Linked DNA regions of Homo sapiens: region 1 is linked to region 2. Evidence: fine-mapped expression QTL. A gene starts in region 2. The other region holds a variant in brackets. All regions are shown on one strand. Distances are between the middles of the regions.

Region 1 (9,901 bases), 490 kb after region 2:
TATGCTGGAATTAACAGCCAGAGCAACTAGACAAAAAAAAATACATCCAAATTAAAAAGAAAGTTGTCTCTGTTTGCAAATGACATGATCTTATATATAGAACACTCTAAAGACTCTACTAAAAAACTATCGTATTTAATAAATATATTCGGTAAATTTGCAGGACAGAAAATCATATGTGAAAAATCAGTCGTGTTTTTACAAACTCACAATAAATTATCTGAAAAAGGTATTAAGAAAATAACACCATTTACAATAGCATCAGAAAAATACAGTACTTAGGAATAAATTTAGCCAAGGGGTCCAAAGAGCTGTACACTGAAACTATAAAACACTGATGAAATAAATTGGGGAAGACATAAATCACTGGAAAGATATCCTGTGTTCATGTATTGGAAGACTTAATATCATTAAAATATTCATACCATTCAAAGCAATTTACAAATTCAATCAATGCCTATCAAAATTCCAAAGTTATTTTTCACAGAAATAGAAAAGCAATCCTAAAATTCATATGGATTCACAAAAGTCCTGCAATAGCCAAAGCAATTTTAAGAAAGAGGAATGAAGCTGAAGACATCATACTTCCTGGCTTTAAAGTATATTACAAAGTTATAGTAATCAAAACAGTATGGTGCTGGCATAAAAGCAGACACATATATCAATAGAACAGAATAGAGACCCCTGAAATAAACCCACACACATACAGTCAACTAGTTTTTGAAAAGGAGGCCTGGAATACAAAATTGGGAAAGGGTAGTCTCTTCAATAAATGGTGTCAGAAAAGTTGGATATCTAGATATTCTAAAGGTCTTTATAAGATTTTTGAAGACTTCATGAATTTTCAAAATTAAATAAACAATATTTGTGCTTTAAGTACGTGATAAGTTCTAAACAAACTATAAATCCACTTATCAAAAGACAATTGCTAAAAAAAAAAAAAGAATTTACTAAAAGGCTAAATCTCAGAACTCACTGCATTTTTCAACTTTCAAAATCTATTTTAATTGTTCATATTTGTATCAGTTTGGTTTTCTTAACTTTTGAAAGTTTTTGTTATATTTAGTTACCTCTTTCTACATACCCACATATTTTTAATTGTTCAGGTTTTTTAAATGAGAGATTCTAAGACAATTTAAAGTTTTAAAAGCATGTTTTCCATTCAGAGAAGTATATTTTGTAATCAGTAATGAAATTTTAAAATAAGGAGCAATTTTATTTTGTGGAAAAAAATTATCATGAAAGCATGGGGCCACACAAAACAAAAGGAAAAAAGTGAGGATGCAAGGAAGAGATTTTAAATAAATAATATGATTATCATAACAAATGTGACACGTTAACACAAGTACAATTTCTGAAGGAAAAACAGAAGCAAATAGTTGACCATTCTAAAATACTGCTAGTGTAAGACATGCACTTAGGAACAAGATAAACTATAACACATATTAAATCTTAGGTACAATTAACTAGAAGTTATCAATAAATGGCTTTAAACTATATTATGAAGCTATCGTGATCAACACAGTATGGTACGGTTGGTACGCTCTTTAAAAACTGAAGAAAATAATTTTGAAATAATAAAATTGTTGACAAAACAGCAACTATATATTATTTGAAAGGAATCAAGATAAATACGTATATTATATGAATTGCTGAAATGTTGCTTATTAATTATGGAGCATACTACTTTGAATATTCAGTATATTTATGAGACTAAGCTACTCTCTACCCCTTTATTTAAAACCAATATAATATTTCTTAACATGCTACTATAAAGACAAAATAAAACCATTCTTTAAGCTTCATAGAAGTCTACAAATATTGTAAAAAATCATTCCACATAATATGTTGTAAACTTATAAAAATAGTTTAATAGTTGTTTTTGCTAATTTACCAAATTGGTTATCTGACAAATTATTTTCTGAGAATTGCCTTTGGCTTATTCGATCATCAGTAACTTGGCCTTTATCTATGTTATGAATACTCACAGTTTCCCTTCTTTGAGATGTTTCCATTCATTAATGTAAGGGGGTATGTGATTATCAACTTTGTGTCAACTTTAGTAGGCCACATTACCCAGATATTTGGTCAAACACCAGTCTGGATGTTACATGAAGTTATTGTTTAGATGAGATTAATATTTAAATCAGTAGACGTTGAGGGAAGCAGATTACCTTAAAGGCCTTAAGAAAAAACAGGCTGAGATCCCTTATGAAGAGGAAATTCTGCCTCCAGACTGTCTTTGGGATCAACATTCCATGCCAACTCTCCAGTCTGTGGGCTTATGCTACAGATTTTGGACTTGCCATCCTTCATAATCACATTAGCTAGTTCCTTAAAACAAATCTCTCTCTCTCCCTCCATATATGTATATAAACACACATGCACACACACACACACAGACATAAAATACACATATATATTAATAATATATGCATACTGTGAAAGGAAAATAAATCTTGGGGCCCCAAAATCATTAAACTAAAGGGAAAAGTCAAGCTGGGAACTGCTTAGGGCAAACCTGCCTCCTACTCTACGCAAAGTCACCCCTCTGCTCACTGAGATAAATGCATATCTGATTGCCTCCTTTGGAGAGGCTAATTAGAAACTCAAATGTATATAATCATTTGTCTCTTACCTACCTATGACCTGGAAGTCCCCTCCCCGCTTTGAGTTGTCCCACCTTTCTAGACCGAACCAACATTCGTGTTACATATGTTGATTTATGTCTCATGTCTCCCTAAAATATATAAAACCAAACTGTGCTCTAACCACTTTGGGCACATGTTGTCAGGACCTCCTGAGACTGTGTCACCTGTGAGCATCCTCAACCTTGGCAAAATAAACTTTCTAAATTAACTGAGACCAGTCTCAAATTTTGAGGGTACACAACACACACACACACACACACACACACACACACACACACACACACACACATATACATACTTTTGGGTAAAAAGTAAAAAATGAATCCTTTTTTAATACTGGTTCTTCTAGTCTGACATGCTGTATTCCCATGCTAGATCACTAGGAGACAAATGTTTTCATCTTCCATGTAATAACACAAATGTATTGCCCTCCCAAAGCTTCCTCTGATTCCCTGTTCTGCGCTAGGCTTTCCTGCACTTATGCCTGCAAATGAGTTTTGATTGTGCCTGCCGTTGCTTGTTATATTGACTATCTCTATCATAGACTATTACATCCTTGAAACTATGTTTATGTGTCCAGGGCCTGTAGATTAATGGATGGATGGGTGGATGGATCAGTAGATCAATAAAATCAGCTACCAAAACATAAATCTTTCAAAATATTGGATGTGCTCTACTACAAGACCCTCTCAAAAAAAAGAAAAAAGAAGTAGTTCATGAGAAGTTTGAGTCCTTAAAGTTAATGCTGTTTTCTCTACATTCTAATCCCAGAAGTACAGCAATTCACTTGAATGATAGAAATGCTTCTAACAATGAACTGTACTGAAAATGATTTAAAATGAAAGCTTGTTGGACACAAAACGTATACAAGTTATATCACTGAACTTAACTCCCTTAAACATATTGCTAGACCAAAATCTGGAGTCGGGGGAAGGAGGGGTCTGTGGCACATCCTCTTACATTTTTAGTGGGAAAAAGCAAGACACATTCTAGACTTTTATTACACGGGTCCAAATATAGAAGCAGTTCTATGACATAAAGAGTTATTGTTTCAATAAGTATCTTGCCAGCCAGGCATGGTGGCTTATACCTGTAATTCCAGCACTTTGGGAGGTCAAGGCGGGTGGATCACCTAAGGTCAGGAGTTGGAGACCAGCCTGGCCAACATGATGAAACCTCATCTCTACAAAAAATATAAACATTACCTGGGCATCGTGGTGCACACTTGTAGTCCCAGCTACTCGGGAGCCTGAGGCAGGAGTATCGCTTGAACCTGGAGGTGGAGGTTTCAATGAGCCGAGATCATCCCACTGCACTCCAGCCTGGGCAGCAGAGAGAGATTCTGTCTCAAAAAAAAAAAAAAAAAGAAAGAAAAAAAGTGTCTTCTCTATTTTTAACCAGACAGATTTATGATGGGAAACTATGATAGTGTTTGTTTTGCTATTGCTTTTTTGTGAGCTCATGTTTCAATGAGTTTGAGCATAAAAATAGGTTACATT[G/C]CAGAGCAATGGAGTTAGACAAATATAATTTTCTGTTGATATAACTGAAGGCAAGGAATCTCAAAATCTCAGTGCAGGTGGTCTGCTGTGGCATTGCTATGAAGGTCCAGGATCCTAGCAAGAGAAGAATCATTACAGATCTCTCCACAAGAACTATTTGGCATTCACAAGTAGCTTTCCTAGTGAAGACTTACTATACAACAAAATAGAGAGAGCAGTAATTCCTTCTCAGCCACCAGAATTTTTGAAATAGCATCATCCTATATCTCAAGAGCTATTGGTATCACAAAAAAGAAAACATTTCTTGATATTCAGCTAAGAGAAAGCAGTTGCTCTGTGCAAAGCATTTCTATATTAACATTTTTGTATTTTACAACAACCTAACGTTGTACTCTTTTTAGTTACTAAGGATCCATGCATTATGCTTATGTTTGAGCCCCTCAGAATAGGTTTTATCTCAGTAAAGAATACTTGCCATTGTTTTTAGTTTTCTGCCAGTTCAATGATTTCTTAGCATTTCATTCCATGCACATTTTTACAGAAAACAAAAAAATATATAATTCAAATAGATCAAAATGAATATTCTCCATTGAATGCTTTTTACTGGTAAAATTAAACTAAATATAGTCAGCCGGGCACGGGGACTTACGCCTGTAACACCAGCACTTTGGGAGTCCAAGGCAGGCAGATCACCTGAGGTCAAGAGTTTGAGACCAGCCTAGCCAACATGGAGAAAGTCCATCTTTACTAAAAGTATAAAAATTAGCTGGGCGTAGTGGTGCACACCTGTAGTCCCAGCTACTCAGGAGGCTGAGGCATGAGAATCACTTGAACCTGGGAGGTGGAGCTTGTGGTGAGCTGAAATTGCACCACTGTACTCCAGCCTGGGTGATACAGCAAGACTCTGTCTCCAGAAAAAAAAAAAAAAAAGAAGAAGAAAAAATTAAATGTAGTCAATCCTCCCTTTCTGTGGGTTCTGTACCCCTGGGTTCCACAGCTGTCAATTAAATCAATCTCAGATCCAAAATACAATAACCCCAGGTTTCACATGGCCAGCTTCTGGACTTGAGCATCTGTAGAGTTTGGCATATGCAGGGTGTCCTGGAATCAATCCCCTACAATGACTGTATTACCTCATTTAATCATAAGGAGAATTTTGAAAAGTGTCTACCATTATTTTCTACTCCACTTTGTGGATGAAATTGTCCAAGACATTAATAGAGTAAAAAAATTCTAAGGTGAGAAATCTAATAAGAGAACAAAAATCCTGGCATCTAAAACCAAAGTATATCTGATTTCAAAGTGCTGGCTCTTAACTATCACTCTCTATCTTCCCCTAATCTTCCCAGCAAGTACTGTATTATAATCAATTCACCTGTTTTTTTTTCTTTTTTTGCAAAATCACTTTTGTGTAAACACTGACCTAGGCACTGTGTTGCATTTAAAGACAAAAAAGTTCATCAACACAAGATTGTTCTTTAAATATACATTTAATCCACTAAGGGATTTAAGTAATCTTCAAAGACCATTAGTCTTCACCAATTTTCCTTTTGAATATTTTAATAGCTTCAAAACTTTACAATGTGTAACCACTTTTTGGCTCTACATTAACTTGTGTGTAGGAACAATTCATCTGGTGAGTGAATCCTGATCATCTCTGCAGCATACCCATTTCAACGAGGAGCTTCTAGTGCTGCGATAGACGTGAAGAAAAAGTAGATATTTAAAAAAAATTCTCCCACGTACAACTTTTACCAGGAAATAGAAGTTTGAAACAAAGTGCTAAATGGTAAATTGATCAAGACTATGGATGAGTCTTACATTATTTTATGTGCAAACAAGAAAAAGGAAAATTTATAGTTTGCTCAATTCTTACAGCTGGGAAAGGAAAAATTGTAAACTAAATTGTGTTTACACATTTGGTGATTTTAAAGCCTTCATATGTACTTTTCCTAGATGTCAAATGTCATTACATAAAAAGTGTTTTGTTTTGTTTTTAGTATTGCAATGTGCTCAAGAATCATACAAAATAGAAAAGACACTTCAGACCCAAGAAATTGGGAAAAACCGCAGAAAGAAAACACAATTGAGCTGACCTTTAAGGACAGAAGAATTTCAACAGAAATAGGAGTTTCTGTTTTTTGTCTGTTTTGGGAAGTACAGTTCCAGATGAAACTGTGTTAATAAAAACATTATTCTTCAGAGGCTGAAATAATGAAAAATATAAGACTAAGCAAAAAAAATGAAAACCAAATTAGTCTATATCATAAAGAGCAGTAAATTTGGAAAAAATAAATAAGCTCTGTATGAAATTATTACACACATTACTATGAAAAAAGAGTTTCCCAAAGTCTCTGGATAAATAAAATAATTTCAGTGAACTAGAGAATGTCACCCGAGATTAAAAGCGCCTTCTTATTGCAGAAAATCTCTTAAAATAGACACACACACACACACACACACACGCACAGAGACAGAGAGAGAGAAGACAGAGAGATCATGAAAGAAAAGGCTATTCAATTACTTTAGAGATTAATGAAATTAAAAATAAAATATTTACTATATACACTTTCCCTTGACTTAAACTGAAACAAAACTAAATGTGGCAACTTTGATTTTTATTTGATCACCTTATGTGCTTTACATTGGTAGCATAAATGAAATAACTATACTAAAAGGAAAATTATTTTTCATGCTAGTTAAATATTCAATTGATTGTTTTGGCAGGCTAAATGTGGATGGGGCTAGGAGTACGAGGGAGATTTTTAATGAGCAGGTAGCTCTGAACTCAACAGCAAATTAAGGGAGCATAAATCCTTTATAAAAACTCTTCCCACATACTTCCTCTCCTCACCACCAGTTCACAAAAGGCTGCTGTTTTTATGAGAGACACTGAGAATAAAGTCTGAAGCTGTGAAGGAACTGGTTAAGTCAGAACAGGAAGGGAAGAGGCTATGAATGCAGAAGCAACTCAGAGGCGCTGACCCCAAAGGATAATTGCCAGAGAGGGTTCTTCTTCTCAGGTAGTCTTTGTGATCCAACATAGTCCCTAAATAATTCTAATAAACAAGTGTCATTTTTTGAAAAGTTCTTACTGTAGATACAACATGCAGAAGCCCCAGTCTCCTTGTTGGAGTCAAATGTGCATATTTAGTTAAAAAGAAAAAAGAGAACACCTGTTTCCATGACTACAGTGTTAATTTACTTCTTAGAGTTGATCTTGTGCGGGATTTCTGTTTTTCTTGCTATAGTATTATATGCATTGTTGACATTTAGATTTGCACTAATTTTAGTGCACATCTACACTAAAATATATAAAGTATGAATAAGTAAACAAGTATCTCTTTTTTTCAATTTATGTTCTTGTTCTTTTGAAATTACTAACACAAGTTGCAAAATCAAGCTCATTTTAGTCAACATTATGTATTATCTGTACATATATACAATATTAAATAGAATATTATTCAAAAGGCACAATTTTGTATTTAGTAAGAAAAGCAGAAAATCAGTTACCTTTGAATAAATAACTTGTTTGAAAAATAAGTTGGGAAATTTACAGCAGCAGTGGCATAAAATGTTTAAGGCTTCTCATATCTCTCTATAAAAAGTCAAATCAAACAACAATCACAAAAATCCATATATAACATCCACAATAAAAGTAGATGTAAAGTTGCCCACAAAACTTGAATGCTATGTGTTTGGGATCTGGGTAAAAATTTTCCATCGGGTCAAATATATTGATACAGTTGCACTATGCAGACATCCTGGATAAATGAGTTAGCTCATGAGGCCAGGAGTTACTCTGCTTGGGTGGCTGATTGAAATTTGGAACTAAACATAGGTAGTTTATACTGAACAAACTTAAGTGCCAAATTTCTTCATTTGTTATAGAAAAAGTTATCCAAATGCTTACAGAGATTAGAAAGTTGGAGTGGATTTATTACATGATAGCTGGTCTCCTGCCCATAACTATGTCTCCATTGTGAGAGTCCAGAAGACATTCTCTGCATTGATGCTTTGAAAAACACATTGTGAGTGGAACACAAAAATGAAAGGACTCTGCTACACTGTTAACATTTATACTATACATCTTACCCCAGCCTTCCCCAAGGAACCCCTAGTCATTTTCCCAGATGACTGTGCATTAGGGGAAGTAGTTAGGATTTGGGGATTACTCGTTGTTTGGAGCGCACTATTTTCTGAAGACCCAACACTAGCATTATTCACCTGCCAAGATTAATAGAGTTGTGTTTTATGTCCATCTCACAGTGAGCACTGTGTGTCTGCATCTACCCATGATGATTTTCCAAATTTTAGGATGTATATTTGGAATAGACATACAAAGCAACCGGCATAAGCCCACACTAGTTTCCACACTAATATAGACCCATGGGCTACTTTAATATACTAGGAAAGACAAAGTGAAAGAAAGAAAAATTGCTTCTACCTATTAAAATACTAAAGGCAAGACAATACTGTGTTTTCCTGGCAGGATTGCAGAGGTTAGTGCTAACATCCAGTTAAGTGATTCTAATCGTTTCTTCTATAAAATTTGCCTTTTTGGCTGAAACAAAACACAGATGGGTCTTGGGAAAAGAGAAAGAATTATTATAAATTTTATCAAGTGGAGATTCTAATTGCAGTATTGCTTTAGATTTAGGGTTGGTTTAGTTACTGGAGAAAATCAACATATCCCTTGGTATTTGAAAAGCAGCCATCAATCTGTTAAATACTTTTCCCTATGAATCTTAGTAATGACAGTATACTTTCTCACCACAGGATTATATCACTCTCCAACTCTCAGTCATAGTCTAATCTGCAAGGACTTTGATCATCTCTTCATTTCACAGAACATCAAATTAGCCCACGTCAATGACATCATAATAATTACAGGAAGCGGTAATAATCCTAAGCACTGCAATATGATACATGCATGCCAGAGGGTGGGGAAAAAAATAACAGACAATTTCAAAGATGTGCAAAGATTTCTCAATGATAATTCTAAGATCTGACTGATCTGGGGAATGCTGACATCCTTTCAAGGTAAAAAACAAGTGTATCTGTTCTCTCCTGTCATAAAGAAGAGACACAATGCCTACTGAGCACTGTGGTTTTAGAGGCAATACATATCCCAATTTGGGGTGCTACTTCCACCTATTTACTCAGTGGTTAGAACTGCTGCTAGATTTGTATGAAACCTAGACTTCGAGGAGGCCCTGCATCAGGTTCAGGCTGCTGTTAAAGCTACTCTGCCATTTGAGTTCTATGAAGGCATTATGATGAAATGTTGTAAAAGTTAAATATACTCTTAGTGGATTTTTAAAGACAGCTATAATTGAATTACAACAGTGACATTTGTGATTTTGGAGTAAAGATATGTAATCCTTCACAGATTACTATTTTCTTATAAGCAGTTTCTAGCATGCTTCTGGGTTCTTTTACAGACTAAATGCTTGATATAGGGTACCATAGTGGGCTGAGCTGTGTATTCTGAACTGACTATGTCTGACCCATAATGACATGAAGTTGGACACATACCGCAGTAGTCTATCATTAATTGGAAGTGACATATGTGAAACTGGGCTTGAGTAGGTTCCGAAGGCGCAAGTACCTTCTATTAGCTAATAGCTCAGACTTTCATGGTCCCTACTCCTGTTATATTACCCACTCTGTCCCAACCCATATCTGTAGCATGGGTTGTATCCCATGACAAATTGACAGAAGACACATTACAATTGGCCGGGCGCGGTG
Region 2 (9,901 bases):
TACCCTCACACTCAGAGACCATTATAGGGTTAGTAATTGGCCTCATTTCAATATTGTGTCTCAGGCAATAGGGAAGCTTGAAGAGAGGAAGAGAGACAGGGAAATGGCTGCTTGGTGGAGTAGTTAGAACACACATTTACCAGTTAAGTTTACCATCTAATATGGTTTGTAGTGCCCCAAAACAATCACAACAGTTACATGAAAGATCACTGATCACAGGTTGCCATAACAGATATAATAATAATGAAAAGGTTTGAAATATTGCAAGAATTACAAAAATGTGACACAGAGATTTGAACTGAGCACATACTTTTGGAAAAATGATGCTGATAGACTTGCTCAATAGATGGTTATCACAAATCTTCTATTTGTAAAAAATGAAATATTGGCAAAGTTTAAGAAAGCAAAGCCTAATAAAATGAGATATTCCTGTAAAATCAACCCAGCCTGAGGAAAATAATCAGTGGATTTCTAGATTGGTCAATAGAGATTGCCACAAATAAAATGTAAAGAGATAAAAGAGTGGGAAAAAAGAGAGCAGAGTAACAAAAAGCTATGAGGCAATATCATCTGGTCTAACACATGTGTAATTAGAATATCAAAGGGAGAAGAAATAATGAGCAGAAGAAATTTTTTAAAAATGTGCCTAAGAATTTTCTGAAATTAGTGACAGACACCAATCCACAGATCCAAAGAGCTGAGAGAACAACAAGCAGGACAAATTCCAAAAAGACACATCTACATATATCATATTCAAACTGTTGAAAGCCAAGCAAGTGAGCAACCAAAGTAACACACACACACACACACACACACACACACACACACACACACGAGAGAGAGAGAGAGAGAGAGAATCTTAAGGTAGCTGGTATGGGGGTTATATAATTTATAATAGTACTTAAAATGAAATGCTTTGGTGTAACTAAATATAACAGAATGTGTGGAGAATCTGTATGCTGAAAAGGAAATAAATCTGATGGAAAAAATAAAAGACAATCTAAATAAATGGAAAGCTACACAGGGTTAAGTATTTGAAACACTTAATATTTGAGATGTCAATTCTTACCAAACTGATTTTTATCCCAACAAAAATCCCAACTAACTTCTGTAAATATTGACAAGCAGATTCAAAATGTATACGGAAAGGCAAAGGAACCAGATTAACCAAACAATTTTTATAAAGAAAAAAATTGTGAGGGGGATCTGACACTACTACATTATAGTACTGTTATAAAGCTACAGCATTCAAGACTACAATATTAATGAAAGGATCAAGTCATAAATCAATGGAGCAGAATAAATATCTTAGAAATAGACCCACAAAATGTAGCCAACTGATTTTTCACAAATATAGAAATAGAAAAGGCATAGTCTTTTTAGCAAATGGTACTGAAGCAATTGAACTTCCATATGCAAAATAAATAAATGACACCTCGGCAGACACTTCATGCCTAATATAAAAATAAACTCACAATGGATTATAGACCCAAATAGAAACATAAACTATAAAAGTTCTAGGAGAAGGAGGATTGCATGACCTTAGCAATGAATTCTTAGGTATAGTGCAAAAGCATGAGCCATATGTTTTATAAATACAGTTTTTCTATTTATGTTTGATAAATAGAGTTTATCAAAATTAAAACATTTTGCTCTTCAAAATATATTCTAATGAAAGTGAAAATACAAACAACAGACTGGTAGAAAATATTTGCAAATTACATTAGAGATAAAGAACTTGTATCTAGAAATGTAGAGAACATTTAACAATCACAAGAAAACAAACTACCTAACTAAGATGGGAAAGGTCTCAAACATTTTGAGAAAGAAAATAAACAGATGACAATCAAAACCATATTGAGTTACCTCTACACACATATCAGAATGGCGAAAACAAAACAAAACAAACATACAAAAATTGATAATAGCAAATGCTTGTGAGGATGCAGGAAACAGAAACTCTCCTTCATTGCTGTTGGGACTGCAAAATGGTATGTACAGCCACTTTGGAAACTGACAGTTTCTTACGACGTTAAATATATATTCACCGTGTGAACCAACAATACCATGTTTGGTTTTTCTTTTTGTTTTTTGTTTTTTGTTTTTGAGACGGAGTCTCACACTGTTGCCCAGGCTGGAGTGCAGTGGTGCGATCTCGGCTCACTGCAAGCTCCGCCTCCCGGGTTCACGCCATTCTCCTGCCTCAGCCTCCAGAGTAGCTGGGACTACAGGCGCCCACCACCACGCCCGGCTACTTTTTTGTATTTTTAGTAGAGACGGGGTTTCACCGTGTTAGCCAGGATGGTCTCGATCTCCTGACCTTGTGATCTGCCTGCCTCGGCCTCCCAAATTGCTGGGATTACAAGTGTGAGCCACCGCGCCCGGCCCCATTGTTTAGTTTTTAACCTAGGTAAATTAGTAAAAGTCTGTGTGCACAAAACCTGAAACCTGTATGCAAATTTTTCTAAAAGCTTTATAATCACCACAAAGCAAAAATAACCAGGATTCCCTTTAACATATGAGTAGATTAACATGCTGCAAAGTACCTATACAAAGAAACATTACTCAGCACTAAAAAGAAACTGTTGATTCATACAACAATATGAAGAAATCTTGATTTCATTTTGCCAAATGAAAGCAGCAAGACCCAAAGGGCTGTATACTGTATAATTTCATTTACATGACATTTTGCTAAATGAGAAAAAAAAATCAGTTGTTGATCAGGACATTTAGTTTTGATCACTGGAGAGCACACAATGGAAATTTAGAATGAGGCAACTGTTTTATATGGTTCTGCAGTGATGTACAAATGACACTACGCATTTTTCAAAATTTCAGAAACCATACAAAATAGTGCATTAAATGTACTCATATTAAAATAAAAACTAAGCTTTTGGAAATCCAAGGATGAAATGAAGACTGTGCCAAATAAATCTAAGTACAGGGTTTAATCTCACTGAAGTGTGTGAGAGAAACAAGAAAGAGCTCACAATAACGTTGGGAACAATGTTTTGACTAGACCATAAAATTAAAGGCAGAAAGAACTTTACATAAGCACTTTATTTTAGCTGGTAATTTTGATCTCACAGGGTAAATTTAGCCATTCTGGAACTACAACTCCTAAAGTTGTACAAGTAAGTAAACAAAATGTAGACAGTTCACTACATGGAATGGAATGGGAACCAAATTCTTTATATCGAAAAAGGAAATTACAAATGAGCAAGTGGGAGAGGCTAGAATGACCACTGTGGCCATGAGTTACAATTGGAAATAAAAGATTGAGTTCTTGTTTCTTTTAATATGCATAAATATAAGTAAATACAGAAATACATATAAACGTGTGCATATGTACATATAACTTTCTCTCTCTTTCCAGAAAAAGTAAACAAGCAATGATAGTTCTATAGCAATGAGCACCACTGTTGTTTATATCATGGATTCTAAATATGATTCTGCAATCATATTTAGAGAAATGACTGATTTCTTTGGTCATATTTGGAGAAAATATGGGGCTTGGGCAGGAAAAATACAAATGATTCTGGAGCATCCTCTGGTGCTAGAAAGCAAGCAAGGGCTGATAAATACATAAACATACAGATAAATACATAGGGCATGTCAAAGTGATCCAAGAGTTATCCTGAAACCTCAAAAAATCTCCCAAGACAACCCTAGAACAACTTGAGTAACAAAATAAACAATGTCATTATTGAATTACATCCATTAGATCAAATAAACACGTGCCCATACTGTTATAAATAATCAAATAAATTAATTGATGAAGAAAGGGAAAAGCTTCTTTACAAATGGTGAATGTAGAAGAATGGCAGAAATAACAAGTCAACAGGTCTGAAAATATCTCCCCAAAATATTTATTAAGTACTATGGTAGTTGAAACATATGCCTGTAAATTCTCTGATACTCCTCTCTCCATGGTGGAGCTTGAGGGTGGGTTAGATTTGTTAAGAAGCTTCTAATGAATAGAGCAGGAAAAGAGACAAAAGGCAGCTTTCCAGTGGAGAAATCTATCAGTCGCTAACTTAGCCATGGTGTCAAAGTAAGCCATCTCCAATAACAAATCATGTTGATATCAAGTTTCCCTGACATATTAGAAAAAGGCTTTAAATGATATTCTTCACAAAATCCATACCTCAGTTGCACTGTGAGAACCACAGAAACCCATATCAAGGGCCATTCTACAAAATACCTTCCAAAGTATATTGGTAATGAACAACAAGGAAAAACTGACAAACTGTCACAAACTGGAGGAAACTAAGGGGATACGATGACTTAGTAATGTGGTAACCTGGACTGGATCCTGGAAATGAAAAAAAAATTAGGGGAAAATACAGGCAAATCCTAATGAAGTCTGTAACTTAGTTAATAGTATTATACCAATGGTAATTTTTTACTTTTAATAAATGTATCATGGTTATTCAAGATGTTAACATTAGGGGAAGCTAGATGAAGCATATATGAAAACTCTACAAGCTTTGCAACTCTTCTTTAAGGATTTAATCATTAAAAAATTAAAAATAAATGAAAAAAACAGCTGCAACAATGGTCTATACGTTGAGAATTTCAAAAAGATGCTGTTTACTTTGGGATTCAAGTAAAAACACTATAGTTGTTAAACCCTAGAGTACTCTTGAAAAAGACGGTTTTGTACACTTTAAACTGAAAGAGTATAGGAAAAATAATTTCACTCTTACAGCTAGGAAACAAAAGGGAACAAATACAAATGGGATAATTATTGAAGTTTCTGCAAGGGGGAATAAATCGCTCAATGTCCCTTCATTGCATAAAGGCAAAGTTCTCTAATTATTAAAGAAAAAAACCTCAACATTTTGATTGATAGGCCCTGTGACATCTGTCATACATCTTGACATTGTTACCTAACTTCTCCCTGGGACTGAATAACTATCAGGTGCCGGGTACCGCTAATAAACCTCAAACACTTTGCATGCCCCAGTGCATAACTGTCGCCCTCAGACTCTTAATTGAGAAACATTCTTTCCTCCTTTGTGACATCACATCCACTAACCAAATGGGGTGGTGTGAGTATCTCCTATAAAATAAAAGCTCTCCTGATGGCCTGTTCCTGCACATTTCCTGAGGACGCCCTCGATCACAAGCAGGTTATAGCTATTTAAACCTTGCCTTACCTGTACTCTTTACACAAATTGAAGGTCAAAGAAGTAGTCATACTTCTGGGCATAGATTAAACTGATTTTGTAATACTGTTTAGGCTGAACCTATCAGTTTCAGACTAAACCCTCCAAATATCTGCCCAAACTTGCCCCATACCCTCTAAAACCAAGGCCTAACAAAGCACTAAAATCAATAGATGAAAACCTAATTGAGAAATGAATCATGAAACTTTGTACTATTCCTTGTAGTACTTCTCTAAATTTAAAAAAAAGAAAAAGAAAAAAAAACACAGGGCAGTGATATAAATTTGTTCAGAATCTCAGGAGTATAAATTGAATAATGATCTCCCACTTCTCTGTAGTAACAAATTCAAATATTATTTTGTCTTTGGTGCATAATGAAATTGCATATTTTACAGCTGTAAATCTGTTTTCTGTTCCTTTAGAATCTGTTTAATTCAGAGTCATATGTTTGCTTTCTTCTGAGAAATTCGATAACGTACACTGGTAATTATGACTTAGGGCTTATTGAGATATTGTCTTAATTTTTAAAAGTCTTTAACCAGGGCCTCAAGGAACTTACATTTCCCTATATTCTACCATACTTTGTGGCATTCTAAAGTTTAGCTGAGCTCTAGGACTGACTCCATCCATCTAATTACTTGTTTTATCTCTAATAGTCTATAAACTTTCTGATGGGGACTAAAATTTTTTCTCAAAGTAAAGTGTATCATCTGAAGCATAATATATCCCAAGGAGGTAAATTTCTCTTTTCTGAAAGATCATAACCATTCAGAATTTTTCTAGTTAGTAACCAGGAGATTTTAGAGATGATTCTTTGGGTCTCATTCACTATAGCCAACAATGGGTTTCCAAATGTATTCATTTTCTGTGGCTAGATATTAAATTAGCACAGAGTTAGGCGCAAAAAGCAACACACATTTATCACACCACAGTTTCTGTGGATGAGGAGTTTGGGTAAGGCTTAACTAGGTCCTTTGTTCAGGGTCTCACAAGCCGAAATCAAGGCATTAGCCACGTTGCAGTTCTCTTCTGGAGCTCAAAGTTCTCTTCCAAGCTCATTAATGTTGGTAGAATTTAGTTACTTGTGGTTGTAGCATCAAGGTCCTCTCCTTTTAGAGGCTCCCCCTCTTTACTGGCAGCTTTCAATACAGCTGTTTCTCTTTAAGGCTAGCTAGAGATTCTTTTGCTTTTATGGCTTTCACCTGATTAAGTCAGTGCCCATCCAGAATAATGTCCCTTTTGAGTCAAAGTCAACTAATTAGAGATCTCAGTTACAGCGGCAAAACCCTTTCACCTTTTCTGTGTTACATAATCCAATCACTCAAGTGACATTTATCATATTCAAAGATCCTACTTATATTCAAGGGAGAGGGTTATACAAGAACATGCACATCTGGGCATTTTAGGAGTCATTTTCTTATTCTGTCTGCCACGTTGACTTTCAGAAATTGACACAATACTGTATCACTTAACCAAATCTTTGTTAATCAAATCTCTTATCTGAGAATTTATGCATATATAGGCATTTCATGCTTTAAAAATTAGCCCTTCAACAACCTCTCATTATGAGCCTGCGTCATCATGAATCATGTTACCTATTCATACATAAAAGATCTGAACAAGTCAAATATCTCTTCCATCTCAACAAACCAGTATCATGCAACTATTTTTCTACTAACCCAATGTCAAAATCCTACTTTCCTAAGCTGAAAGCAGAAGTTGAAACTTGATGGAGGCTTCTACTAACAGTTTTACTTTCTACCTTAAACTTAATGGTTCCCTATTTTGCCAGTCTTTGCTGCCCATTAAAAGTATGCAATATTTCCTAAGAAAGTAGGCTTACTTTCTAAAATTGAATTACTTTCTTCTTTCCATGTTTCTGTTCATCACTGTAATACTTTAAATACTATTAATCTTCTTCCATTAGAAGAGGGAAGCTCATGGCCCCCTAACCACTGCTTCCTGAATATCTAGTAAATTTATTAAAACACGCTAATAAATTAATTAAAGCATGCCCAGAAATCCAGATTTAATCTTGATTTGTTTGTAGGTCATATCCTAAGAATGAAACCAGAAAATATCAGGCAGAAAACACTGGAACAAATTTTAACTCACCATTTTGACCCCTTTCCAGAAATGAAAATATTCTTAGATAACATAATTGTTTCCATTCCCATAGCTTGCTGGATGAATAAAGGAAAGAAGGTTTATATACACTAATAATAGAAATGTTTTGGGATGGTTCATGATTTCGAAAAGCTTCAGAGAAAATAAAGATGCTTAATGTAAGTATCTTTGCAGTAAGATAATGTAATTATCTTACATTATCCATAATTTAGAATGGTTAGCAGATTAAAAGTATTTTAATAACTCTAATGGTTCCTAAGAAGTTGACTATTATCAAGGTGGATATCAGTTCAAAAAGGGACATCATCAAAGCAAAAGAAAATGTCGATTGATCATTACACCAATGGGTAGTTCTCACCAAGATCTCTAACCCACAACACTCAGAGACTACATCTTTGAAGAAGTTCAAAGAGAATATTATACTATGCCAGTCTTTGGTTCTACAGTAAGAAAACTAGAATAATAAGCACAATGGAATTGTCACCAGAAAGTATAAACAAGATGAGTATAAACAAAATTTATAAACAAGATGTAAACAAACACGTTTTTAAAAACCTGTATTTATGAAAACAGTCAATCAACTCAAATGTTACATACAATTTTTCAACAAGAGAAATAAAAGCTATAATATGAAAATCACCTCTGGCCCACTTAGAGTGGCTTCTGGTGGCCCCAAGTGAAGTCTTCTTAAAAAGGCATGTGACATTACGCACACATGTAGGACAAACTGGCCTCTGTACTCAACCAACATCAGTGAGAAAATGAATTTCATTTCCTGTTGCTGGACTACTCTTTATGCATGGTGCCAAAGAATTATAATATTATCTGACAAACCCATATGGGCATTTTGGCCAAAACCAGATCATTGAATGGTCCCCAACAACCAATTTCCAGATGGACGCACAAAAGCCTACTGCCTATTATCCAAAAAGTGAACAGGAATATGTTACCATGTTAAACTGATATCCACCTTAAGGATAGTGGCTAACAATGTCAACTCACATATATTTTGATCCATCAGTTTCCCGTCTCAGTAAAAGATTAATATGCTTTCTTTGTATGTTTTACATAAATTGAATCATTTTTAAAAGCTTTACTAAATATGTAATATATGGAAGGTGTATTATTAACTGCTACAGGAAATACCTGTGGGAATAAGTTGTGTGTGTGTGCACATGTATACACACATACATGTGTGGTTAAATTTCAAAATTTCTTCCAAGCTATAGGTAAATTTTCAAATGACTTTTATTTTCGTATGTAGTTCAAAATGTGGAATGATAAGATAAAGAAATGATACTTTAGGAAGCCAGACTTATCAGGTATTATAACAATTAATTTAAAGTTCAAACTCAATTGAAATCACTCTATTGAGTCTCCAACTACTAAATTAGTTAATGATTCTTTTTAACCTTTGGGATCTTGGTTTGATGGAAGTGAATATAAGTATCAAAATTCCTTAAATATTTCCAATATGAAGACAAGTTTAAATCATATATAAAATTCAAATAAAGGTCTGTCACCAGGAACATTAATAAGCATAATGTAACTGTCACTATAAAGTCTTAATAAACAAGTTGTAAACAAAATACAATTTTTAAAAACTGTGTTGATGACAATAGCTTATCAACTTGAATGTTACATACACTCTTTCAACAAGAGAAAAAAGCTGAGCAAACTGAAATCAATGAATTTTATTGGACCCATTAGAGAACTGAAGTCATAGAGCAAATCATCATCCTGAAATCTGGAGACAGGCAAATACAGAGGGTCATAACTGGAGTCTGCTTATTTGGAGCAGAAGTTTCCAAAGCCATAAACTGGTAGTAACATTTATAAGGTAATTCTTCTGAACTGCTGAAGCTTTTTGATGAGGCTGAGTTTCAATCAGCACGAGCATAAGAAACTCAGAGGTACCATTTATGGAGGCTTCCATACTTTGGTGGGTTTTTACTTCTAGGAACCCCACCAACTTATCATTGTGAAGAGGTAAGAGAGAGACCCTCACGGCTGTGACAGTGGGTAGAGAAAGTTACCATTTGAAATATTTGAAACCATTTTTATTTTATTTTTATAAAATAAATATTTTTATCCTAAAAAATATTTATTCTGTTAGTTATTTTATCCCCCCACTATCACATTCTTGTGATAATCACATCTTTTAAATCTGTAAGCAATGTTATCTTTTAATATAATCTTTGAAATATAATCTTCGAAATCTCACAAAAATTTATATTTTATAATTCACCGTGAATAGCAAAGCCAAAAGAATAACCCACTATTTCCTATACTCAAACATGTTACACATCAACCCAAAAGAAAAAAGACACGAAACCAAAACCAAGGAAACACATATGCTTAGTTAGGAGTTAAAGTTACTCAAGCTCTCCAAATAAAACATACAAATTATTAGCATTAATTAATTATTATTATTTTTTTGAGATGCAGTCTCACTCTGTTGCCTAGGCTGGAGTGCAGTGGTGCGATCTCGGCTCACTGCAACCTCCACTTCCCGAGTTCAGGTGATTCTCCTGGCTCAGCCTCCCCTTGTAACTGGGATTACAGGTCTGCGCCACCACACCTGGCTAATTTTTGTATTTTTA

Alleles and levels. Alleles are on the strand shown, and positions count from the first base shown. SD is a standard deviation of normalised expression in the study named.
For the expression in tibial artery of the gene that starts at base 5,022 in region 2, C is the high allele of the variant in region 1 and G is the other (large effect, 1.0 SD a copy in GTEx).

What was found.
Region 1: its variant is fine-mapped to the expression of ADAM29 in tibial artery (GTEx, PIP above 0.99).

What each region holds. Positions count from the first base shown.
Region 1 is chr4:175,399,115-175,409,015 of GRCh38, forward strand. No RefSeq gene overlaps it. Among named protein-coding and RNA genes, the nearest start is that of GPM6A-DT, 390 kb to the right of the region's middle. The variant G/C (reference allele first, on the strand shown) is at 4,151.
Region 2 is chr4:174,913,337-174,923,237 of GRCh38, forward strand. It overlaps ADAM29 (ADAM metallopeptidase domain 29), which reads left to right and starts at 5,022. Exons shown (of 5, transcript NM_014269.4): 1 at 5,022-5,135; 2 at 7,351-7,456.